3 linked regions of the Homo sapiens genome follow. The protein of the gene in region 3 purifies or fractionates together with the protein of the main gene of each other region. This does not show direct contact. Each region holds a gene or a part of one and is shown on either strand. Other genes may lie near its edges.

The links.
Region 1: the proteins of SETSIP (region 3) and TSN fractionate together in Homo sapiens (co-fractionation; one large-scale study listed by BioGRID). This does not show direct contact.
Region 2: the proteins of SETSIP (region 3) and ZNF567 purify together in Homo sapiens (co-immunoprecipitation; one large-scale study listed by IntAct). This does not show direct contact.

Annotation. Positions count from the first base shown.
Region 1 is NC_000002.12:121,758,586-121,762,243, reverse strand, and holds part of TSN (translin), read right to left. Parts: intron 3,535-3,658; coding exon 3,438-3,534; intron 836-3,437; coding exon 720-835; intron 1-719. UniProt on the Homo sapiens protein: DNA-binding protein that specifically recognizes consensus sequences at the breakpoint junctions in chromosomal translocations, mostly involving immunoglobulin (Ig)/T-cell receptor gene segments.
Region 2 is NC_000019.10:36,714,965-36,718,622, forward strand, and holds part of ZNF567 (zinc finger protein 567), read left to right. Parts: intron 1-3,658.
Region 3 is NC_000001.11:92,073,960-92,076,626, forward strand, and holds SETSIP (protein SETSIP), read right to left. Parts: upstream 1,453-2,667; coding exon 574-1,452; downstream 1-573. UniProt on the Homo sapiens protein: Plays a role as a transcriptional activator involved in the early stage of somatic cell reprogramming. Promotes the differentiation of protein-induced pluripotent stem (PiPS) cells into endothelial cells and the formation of vascular-like tubes (in vitro).

The sequences.
Region 1 (3,658 bases), on a different chromosome or scaffold from region 3:
GAGGCAGGCGGATCACCTGAGGTCAGGAGTTCAAGACTAGCCCGACCAACATGGAGAAACCTCATCTCTACTAAAAATACAAAATTAGCCGGGTGTGGTGGTGCATGCCTGTAATTCCAGCTACTCAGGAGGCTGAGGTAGGAGAAATGCTTGAACCCAGGAGGTGGAGGTTGTGGTGAGCTGAGATTGCGTCATTGCACTACAGCCTGGGCAACAAGAGCAAAACTCCATTTCGGAAAAAAAAAAAAAATACAAAAAATTAGCTGGGCATAGTGGCAGGCACCTGTAATCCCAGCTACTCGGGAGGCTGAGGCAGGAGAATCACTTGAACCTGGGAGGTGGAGGTTGCAGTGAGCGGAGATTGCACCACTGCACTCCAGCCTGGGCGACAGAGACTCTGTCTCAAAAAAAAAAAAATATTTACATAGCACTTATACTGTATTAGATATTTTAAGAAATCTAGAGATGATTTAAAGTATGTGGGAGAATGTGTATAGGTTATATGCAAATACTACACCAGTTATATAAGGGACTTGAACATCCTCAGATTTGGGTATTGGAAGAGCTCTGGAAGCATCATCCTCAGATACCAAGCTACAACTATAAGTGGTTTTTAGTTAATTCTTGTTTGTTTTAATAAACAAAGTACAACCACCCTTTCCACCAAAAAGTAAGCAACCATGCCTGATTCTGCAGATCCCACTAATAAAGACACTTACTGCCAAGAATTTCTGTAACTGCTTCTCGAGTCACTAGTGTTTCTGTTTCCAAATACACAACAAATGCTGCCAAGAAGACCAAGCGCTGCAACACAAACCTCCAGTGCTCATGAAATCTGCATGAAAATAAGCACATTTAGCCTCCAAGGTTAGGGACCTTCAGAAAGATGGGTTTAATACAGCCATGTTCAAACGGTTTAGAAATGCGATCATTTTTCAAATAAAATCTTACACAAACCCCCAATATATAAAGAGAAATATGACATTTAGCATTAATTTTACAAGTTCGAATTTATAACAATTAAGTTTAATCAGTGACAAATATGGTCTAATTTTGATGAGTATGAAAATTTACGCCGGGTGCGATGGCTCACGCCTGTAATCCCAGCACTTTGAGAAGCAGAGGCAGGTTGATCAATCTGAGGTAAGGAGTTCAAGACCAGCCTGGCCAACATGGCAAAACCCCCTCTCTACTAAAAATACAAAAATTAGCCAGGCGTGGTGGCAGGCGCCCATAGTCCCAGCTACTCGGGAGGCTGAGGCAGGAGAACTGCTTGAACCTGGGAGGCAGAGGTTGCAGTGCGCAAGATCACACCACTGCACTCCACCCTGAACGACAGAGCGACACTCCGTCTCAAAAAAAAAAAAAAAAAGACAGAAAAAAGAAAACTGAAGATTACAGATGACAAGAGCAATTGTGCCTTCTAAATTTAATCAGTAAGAACAGTGATACTGCTCTGAAAAAAATAAAAATTTGTAACTGATGATTGAAGACAACTGCAGTTATGTATCATCCTCAACGTATTCCTCCATTTTGATTTGAGTGCAGAATACCAAGAAAATTCTGATTCACAAAATTACCATTTGCAATCACTAAACAAATGCACTTAAAATAGAATACTGAGCTAGAAGCCTGAAAAAAGGAAATTTTACAACCTGTGGATATTTATGCAATGCCTCCTGATTCTCAAATGTGGCAATACATTCAAAAAAAAGGTCTCAACATAATGCAGGTCACACAAACCCTTCTGAAGGCCAAATCCAGCCAGAGGGCAGCCTGTGTGTGACCTCCAGAGAAGATGGTCTCTAAAGACCCCACCTGTTCTACTGTCCTACCTCTCTCTGTGCTTCAGCTATTACAACAGCAGTCCCTGACCTTTTCAACACCAGGGACTGGTTTCATGGAAGACAATTTTTCCACAGAAGGGGGGCGGATGGTTTCAGGATGAAACTGTTCCACTTCAGATCATCAGGTATTAGATTCTCATAAGGAGCATGCAACCTAGATCCCTCGCATGCACAGTCCACAATAGGGTTCGCACTACTATGAGAATCGAATGCTGCCACCAATCTGACAGGAGGTGGAGCTCAGGCAGTACTGCAAGTGATGGGAAGCGGCTGTAAATACAGATGAAGCTTCACTCGCTCACCTACCGCTCACCTCCTTCTGTGCATCCCAGTTCCTAACAGGCCACAGACCAGTACCAGTCCATGGCCTGGGGGTTGGGAACCCCTGCCTTACAGCAAGGATCAGCAAATGTTTTCTGTAAAGGGCCAAGTAGTAAATATTTTAGGCTTTGTGGGACGCTTTCACTGTTACATATTCTTATCTGGGATTTTCTTTTTTTTAACAACTCTTGAAAAAACAAAAGCAATTCTTAGCTCCCAGAGGCAGCAGCCACTAGTGGTTTGTCAACCTCTCCCTTAAAAGAATATTCTCATAAGGTTATACTACCCACCCCCTGAAAATACTCATCCTATTTACTGCTGATATATACGTCTTAAAAGAACATCTTTTTCAGTAAGAAAATTAAAATAAGTAGAAACTTTTGATTCAGGTGCAGTTTTTCCCAGTTTAACACCTATGAAACCAGGAGACATTTCACAATCCATGTTTCACAAGTTGTTTTTTTTTTTTAGATGGAGTCTCACTCTGTTGCCCAGGCTGGAGTGCAATGGCACAATCTTGGCTCACTGCAACCTCCGCCTGCCTGGTTCAAGCGATTCTCCTGCCTCAGCCTCTGAAGTGGCTGGGGTTACAGGGATAAGCCACCACACCTGGCTAATTTTCGTATTTTTAGTAGAGACGGGGTTTCGCCATGCTAGCCAGGCTGTCTCAAACTCCTGACCTCAGGTGATCTGCCCACCTAGGCCTCCCAAAGTGCTAGGATTACAGGTGTGAGCCACCACGCCTGGCCCATGTTTCACATTTATGACTGGCAAAATTTTCCTTCCCTACTGGTACATAAAATAATGGTGTATCTTAAAATCAACAGTGTTGATTTTAATAAGAAAACATGGCATAAAATATTAGCTAATTACATCACTTGGCAGTGAAATTCAAGCTTCAAAGTAAAACTCGACTCCATATATATACTGCCACCTAATCTCATTATTTCACTAACTATAGTTCATCCAATTTCACAAGAAACTTGAATATAGCAAAAAGATATTCTCACTTTTGACCCTCATACCACATTTTCTTTTTAATTGCTTTTTCACTGCAAAAGTAATACATGTTCCTTAAGATTTAGACAGTAAAAAGAAGAAAAAAATAAAATCACCAATTTTTGTCATGACCATTATTAGTTCGGTTTTTTCTCTTTTTGTTACTTCTACACAGGATGTTTGCCTAGTTGTAAGCAATCATTTGGTACACATAATTTTTCTCCTTTTTTTTACTTAACATTATAAAATAATGCTATTTTTCTTACAAACCTGTAATACTGTTCAGCAGGAAATTTGGTCTTCAAAGATGTTAGATGTGTTTTTACTGTACCAAAATGTTCTCGAGCTTTCAAACACCTCTTTGGAACTAGTCACAAAAGATAACCAAATGAAAAACTTAACCAAATTTCAAATACAGTTCTTGCTTAATAATCTAAGTAATCTATCTGGAAATTAATCAACAAAAAAACCTCACAACTAACGTACACATC
Region 2 (3,658 bases), on a different chromosome or scaffold from region 3:
TTCCATGCATTCTCAGACTGATGCTGTTTATTTTATGTAGATGGCACTGACGTCAACATACAAAGCACATTTCTCCTACCTTCACTCCAGTTCATCAGGCGTACTACAGTCTATCATCTCACCTATTTTCTGACAATGTGTCAGAAATGAAAATCACTGACTTTCTCAGCTCTTAAATTTTTCCCCACTATTTATTTATTTATTTATTATTTTTGAGATGGAGTCCTGCTGTGCCACCCAGGCTGGAGTGCAGTGGTTCAGTCTCGGCTCACTGCAAACTCCACCTCCTGGGTTCAAGTGATTCTCCTGCCTCAGCCTCTGGGGTAGCTGGGATTACAGGTGCCCACCACCATGCCCGGCTAATTTTTGTATTTTTAGTAGAGATGGGGTTTCACCATGTTGGCCAGGCTGGTCTCGAACTCCTGACCTCAGGTGATCCACCTGCCTCAGCCTCCCAAAGTGCTCAGATTACAGGCATGAGCCACCGTGCCTGGCCTCCCATTATTTAACTCAAAATAATAATAATAATAATAATAATAATAATAATTATTATTATTATTATTATTATTATTATTATTATTTGAGATGGAGTTTCGTTCTTGTTGCCCAGGCTGGAGTGCAATGGCTCGATCTCGACTCACCGCAACCTCCGGCTCCCAGGTTCAAGCAATTCTTCTGCCTCAGCCTCCTGGTTAGCTGGGATTACAGGCATGAGCCACCACACCCGGCTAATTTTGTATTTTTAGTAGAGATGGGGCTTCTCCATGTTGGTCAGGCTGGTCTTGAACTCCTGACCTCAGGCAATCTGCCCGTGTCAGCCTCCCAAAGTGCTGGGATTACAGGCCTGAGCCACCGTGCCCAATCCCTTCAAATTTATTTTGTTTCTACTACAAAGTCAACTTGATTTTTCTGTCTCTCTTATCATTTCTTATGGATCTCTTCACAATTTGTAATATGTTTATCAGCTTGTGAAATATATTGACATCCTCCCATATTCTGATTTCTCACTGATGTCATACAAAATGACAACTATCTTATTTCATGTATTTATTACTGGAATTACCATTTGTCTTTGTGGTAAATTTTGTCTGGATTCATTCAATGTATATTGTTACTTTCCTCACAAAATATACCATCAGTTTTTCCCTTTTTTTTTATCATTTATTCTATGAAATGGAAATTTCTCTTCTTTCAGGAACTGTCACAATAAGCCCTCATCTGGTCTTTTCAACTTTCTCTTGGAGAAAATTCTTGATAATTTCCACTTGATCTAGTCTCCTAATTGTTGTTCATGAATGTAGGGTTTGTCATCACATAGATACTTTTCATTGTGTTGTGTTCTCCCTTTATACTATATCTTTTAAGTCTCAAGATTTCTCTGTGAAATCTTCCTTGATTACTGCACATCATATCTACCTTCCTTTTTTTCTGAATTCCTGTCCTAACTACTGACTATAACACAAACATGCACAACTCTTGAATAGTCATATAATTTCATTCCTAATTGTTTTTGCTTAAGGATTTTTAAGGATGCTTAAGGATTCTTTCCCTCAAAAATAAGATCCCTTTTGAATCTTCATTTCTTTGAAGGAATCAAGCATTCTTAAGGATTCTTTTCCTCAAAGATAAGATCCCTTTTGAACCTTCATTACTGTGGTATTATTTAACATGTTAGGTATTCAGTAGTTACTGTGTTAATTGCTTATGGAGCTATGTAAGGGAGATATCTTTTCATCCATTCAGAAAGCATATACTAGCAAGTTCCTTTTAGATGTACCTACTCATGCTGTGTCCCTACAGATTGTGCTTGAAGTGGTTGCATTCTGCCAGACACCACCTAACTATGAGTATGCAGTGATCATGTAAAATTTTTTTTTTTAAGATGGAGTCTTGTTCTGTCGTCCAGGCTGGAGTGCAGTGGCACGATCTCAGCTCACTGTAAACTCTGCCTTCCGGGTTCAAGTAATGCTCCTGACTCAGCCTCTGGAGTAGCTGGGAGTACAGGTGCATGCCACCATGCCCGGCCAGCTTTTTTTGTATTTTTAGTAGGGACAGTTTCACCATGTTGGCCAGGCTGGTCTGGAACTCCTGACCTCAGGTGATCTGCCCGCTTCGGCTTGCCAAAGTGCTGGGATTACAGGCATGAGCAACCGTGCCCAGCCCAAAAGAGTTTAAAGATCACCAATAAAGTATTTATTTCTATGAAGAAGGATCACTATCGAGTCTGCATTTTTCATGAAATATTTATGTCAAAGTGTAAGGTTGTTAAAAGATTTGTTAACAGAGTTTTCCTAGGCAATAATTATATTGCAAATTTTAAAGAAGTAGAGCTTAAAATGGTAGGGGAAACATATGAAGGGTTTATGAGATCATGGAATGGTATGATTTCTTTGAAGATTCTCTAAAGATAAATAGAAATAAACCTGGAAGGCAAGCTAATTAATTAAAAGAATGTGTGCACAAGTGTGTTATTAGGAATAAGTAAGGTATATATAGGGCAGTAAGTATCAGGCCTGACTGAGGCAAAAACTACCTGTTATAAACAGGTGAGATCTGTCAGGTATGTGGACAACCCTGAAAACTTGTGAGAATATAAAAAATGAATCTAGACAATATAGTTTTGTTTACAGGAGAAATTCCTTGTATATGTTAGAATTGAAGTTCTTGGACTCAATGAAGAAATAGATTTTTGAGCATAGCTTTAACATTGCTTCATCAGATATAGATGATTGCAAGGTAAGTAAAGTTAGAAATAGCTATACTTTTATAAGAGAAATGAAGGTTAAAGTTACTCTGATTTAGGACCAGATTGTTCAATCTACCATTTGAAATTGGTATTCTGATCTACCATATGAAAAACTGGAATAAAGGAATGTTACTGCATTGGGGAAGGATGTAAGCCAGTCTTAAACCTGGAAAAGTGAGTCAGTAACTGAAAAGAGGACTAGGCATGAGAGCTTTGTTATTGAACAATTCTGAAAGAAGTGATTTAGCAGCAGTCTGAATATAGCAATTGAATATATTCTGATCTTTTTTAAAGTTGCTATCGGAAGTATTTTCCTAATTTTCCATTCATAAGAGAAAATAATACATAATTATGTAGAGGATTAGAGCATAGACTGTAGAAAATGAATTGATAATTTAAAAGCTAAATTAATCAATGTTGACTACATAGAAAGAGGAGGTGGGTTGAACAGCTGGAAGTGTTTTACCACAGTCATCTAGGGATGTGTGTATAAAAGTATTGGTGATCAGCCGGGCACAGTGGCTCATACCTGTAATCCCAGCATTTTGGGAGGCCAAGGTGGGCAGATCATGAGGTCAGGAGTTCGAGACCAACCTGGCCAGCATGGTGAAACCCCGTCTCTACTAAAAATACAAAAAATTAGCTAGGCGTGGTGGCACATGCCTGTAATCCCAGCTATTCAGGAGGCTGAGGCAGGAGAATCGCTTGAACCCAGGAGGCAGAGGTTGCAGTGAGCCGAGATCACGCCACTGCACTCCAGCCTGGGTGACAAAGCGAGACTTTGTCTCAAAAAAAAATAATAATAATTATTATAGGTGATCTGTGTCCTCCAGAAGTAATCTTTCCTCTAGTATTTTCGCTAAACAAAGATTTCTGCTAATTTTTCTTGTCCATCCTACTTACATTTTAATG
Region 3 (2,667 bases):
CCATGTTGTCAAAATGCCCACTTAACCCACCCAAACATCTCAAATCCACACTTTGCTGACCTTCTATAACCCCATTTTTTTAAGTTTTTTTTCTTTTTTTAAACACGAGAAAGTAGACAGATATGTGTTGGTAAATGCTAACTGTCCATATTGTCCCTTTGACCTACATAGAGACACAGTGTACTCTCTGAACCCAATATACAGAGAAAGGAGGAAAAAAGCTAGAATTCTATGCACTACTATACAGGGGCCTAGCATCCTCCAGCTTCCAGCAGAGCGAAGGGAGCAGGTTTTTCTTTTTCCCCACAGAGCTCGGTGGTGTTGATTCCATACAGTTTTTGTTCAGACAGGAAGGGATAAAAATGAACTTCGAACAGAAAAGGGTAGAGACTCTTTTCCCATTGTATTCTGCTCAAGGTATTTCCCCCCAAATAAGTTGAGAACCATGGAGTAGAGAAAAGAGAGCTGAAGAACAGGGTGACTGAGCACAAGAGAAAAAAAAAAAGACTGCAACTTGCTCCCAGGGCTGGAGAAAATTTTAAAAAAGGAAGGTTGGAGTCCATCAGTGTTCTATTAGTCATCTTCTCCTTCATCCTCCTCTCCTTCCTCCCCTTCATCATCATCTTCATCTTCTTCACCTTCATCCTCATCCCCTTCATCAATATCTTCTAATTCTTCCTCCCCTTCATCACCATCATCATCATCATCATCATCATCTTCTCCTCCTTCTTCATCATCCATATCAGGAACCAAGTAATACTGTAATGGGTTTGGCCAAATATCATCTTTGATGACCTCTTCTAACTCATCAGCACCTGCATCAGAATGATCAGTAAACCAGGTAAAGAAGCTCTCTGGTTCCTCATGCTGCCTCTTCCTGCTGGCTTTATTCTGCGTTTGACTTGAACGTTTCGTCACATCCTTTCCAGATTTCCATTTGATTTTGGTGGACTTTGAAGATGGATCACCACTCTCATTCAGATGAAATTCTTTGGAGAAAACTTTATTTTCAAAGTAAGGATTTTCATCAAAATAAAAATCTATTCTGTAACCTGATTTAATATCTTCAAATTCTGTCACTTCAACTTTAGTCAAATAATGCAGTGCCTCTTCGTCCTCCTCCCCAAGCAGTGAAGACACTTGTGGATGGTTGACAAATGTTGTTACCCCAAAATTTGGGATTTTGGCGATCAATTCTGACCTCTTCTGAAAAAATGGTTGGCGGAGTTTGTTATATTTCTGTTCTACTTTCAAAATCTCCTCACTGTCTTGTTCATTAAGTCTGTCTATTTCATTTTGTACTTCATCAATGTGTTCAATTGCTTCTTGCTGTTCTTTTTCTCCCTTCTTCGGCAAGCCTGCAGAGGCCGATGTCTCCTCCAGTCCCAGAGCAGGAGGTGGTCTTGGTTTCTTCTTTTGAAGTGGGAGTGGAGACTGGCGTTTAGGGGCCATGCTGTTAGGGAAGTCCAAGAACCAGACCATGAGTCTCCTTGCTCGTCTGGAAGCAGGCAGAACACTGTAGGATGTACTGTTAAATGAGGAAAAATAAGATGCAGAATACTAAATATAGTATGCATGTTACCTTATGTTTAAGAAGGGGTCATCTGAGTACATGGAATATATGGAATACACACATACATATACACATGCATTCTTTTTTCCAAGGTAATAAAGGAATTTACCCACTTTATTTCTAGTAGTATGTAGTTTCACTTTTTATATTTAGCTGTCTTATCCATTAAATTTTTATATATAGTTCTTTTTTCTTTTTTTTTGAGATGCAGTTTCACTCTTGTCACCCAGGCTAGAGTGCAGTAGGTTGATAATCGGCTCACTGCGACCTCCACCTCCCAGGTTCAAGCAATTCTCCTGCCTCAGCCTCCCGAGTAGCTAGGATTACAGGCCTGCACCACCACGCCCAGCTAATTTTGTATTTTCAGAAGAGACAGAGTTTCACCATGTTGGCCAGGCAGGTCTCGAACTCCGGACCTCAGGTGATCTGCCCACCTTGGCCTTCCAAAGTGCTGGGATTACAGGTGTGAACCACCATGGTCAGCGAATTTTTATATATAGTTCTTAAAAACAAAAAACAAAAACAAACACAAAAAAACACCACTCAGCTGGGCATGGTGGCACATGCCTATAGTTCCAACTACTCAGGAGGTTGAGACAGGAAGATCACTTGAGCCCAGGAGTTCAAGGTCAGCCTGGAAAACATAACAAGCTCTCTTGCTCTCTCTGAAAAGCTTTTTGCTTTTTTAAAAAAATTTATTGAGATGGAGTCTCCCTCTGTCGCCCAGACTCAAGTGCAGTGGCGCCATCTCGGCTCACTGCAAACTCTGCCTGCCAGGTTCAAGCAATTCTCCTGCCTCAACCTCGAGTAGCTGGGATTTGAAATTTTTCATATTAAAACTTTCATTTTTTGTTTTGAAACAGGGTCTCACTCTGTCACTCAGGCTGAAGTGCAGTGGCACGATCACGGCTCACTGCAGCCTCTAACCCCTGGTTTAGGCGATCCTTCCACCTCAGCCTCCTGAGTAGCGAGGACTACAGGCATGTGCCACCACACCTGGCTTTAATTTTATTTATTTATTTATTTATTTATTTATTTATTTATTTATTTATTTAGTAAGTAAGTAAGTAGAGACGAGGCCTTGCTATGCTGCC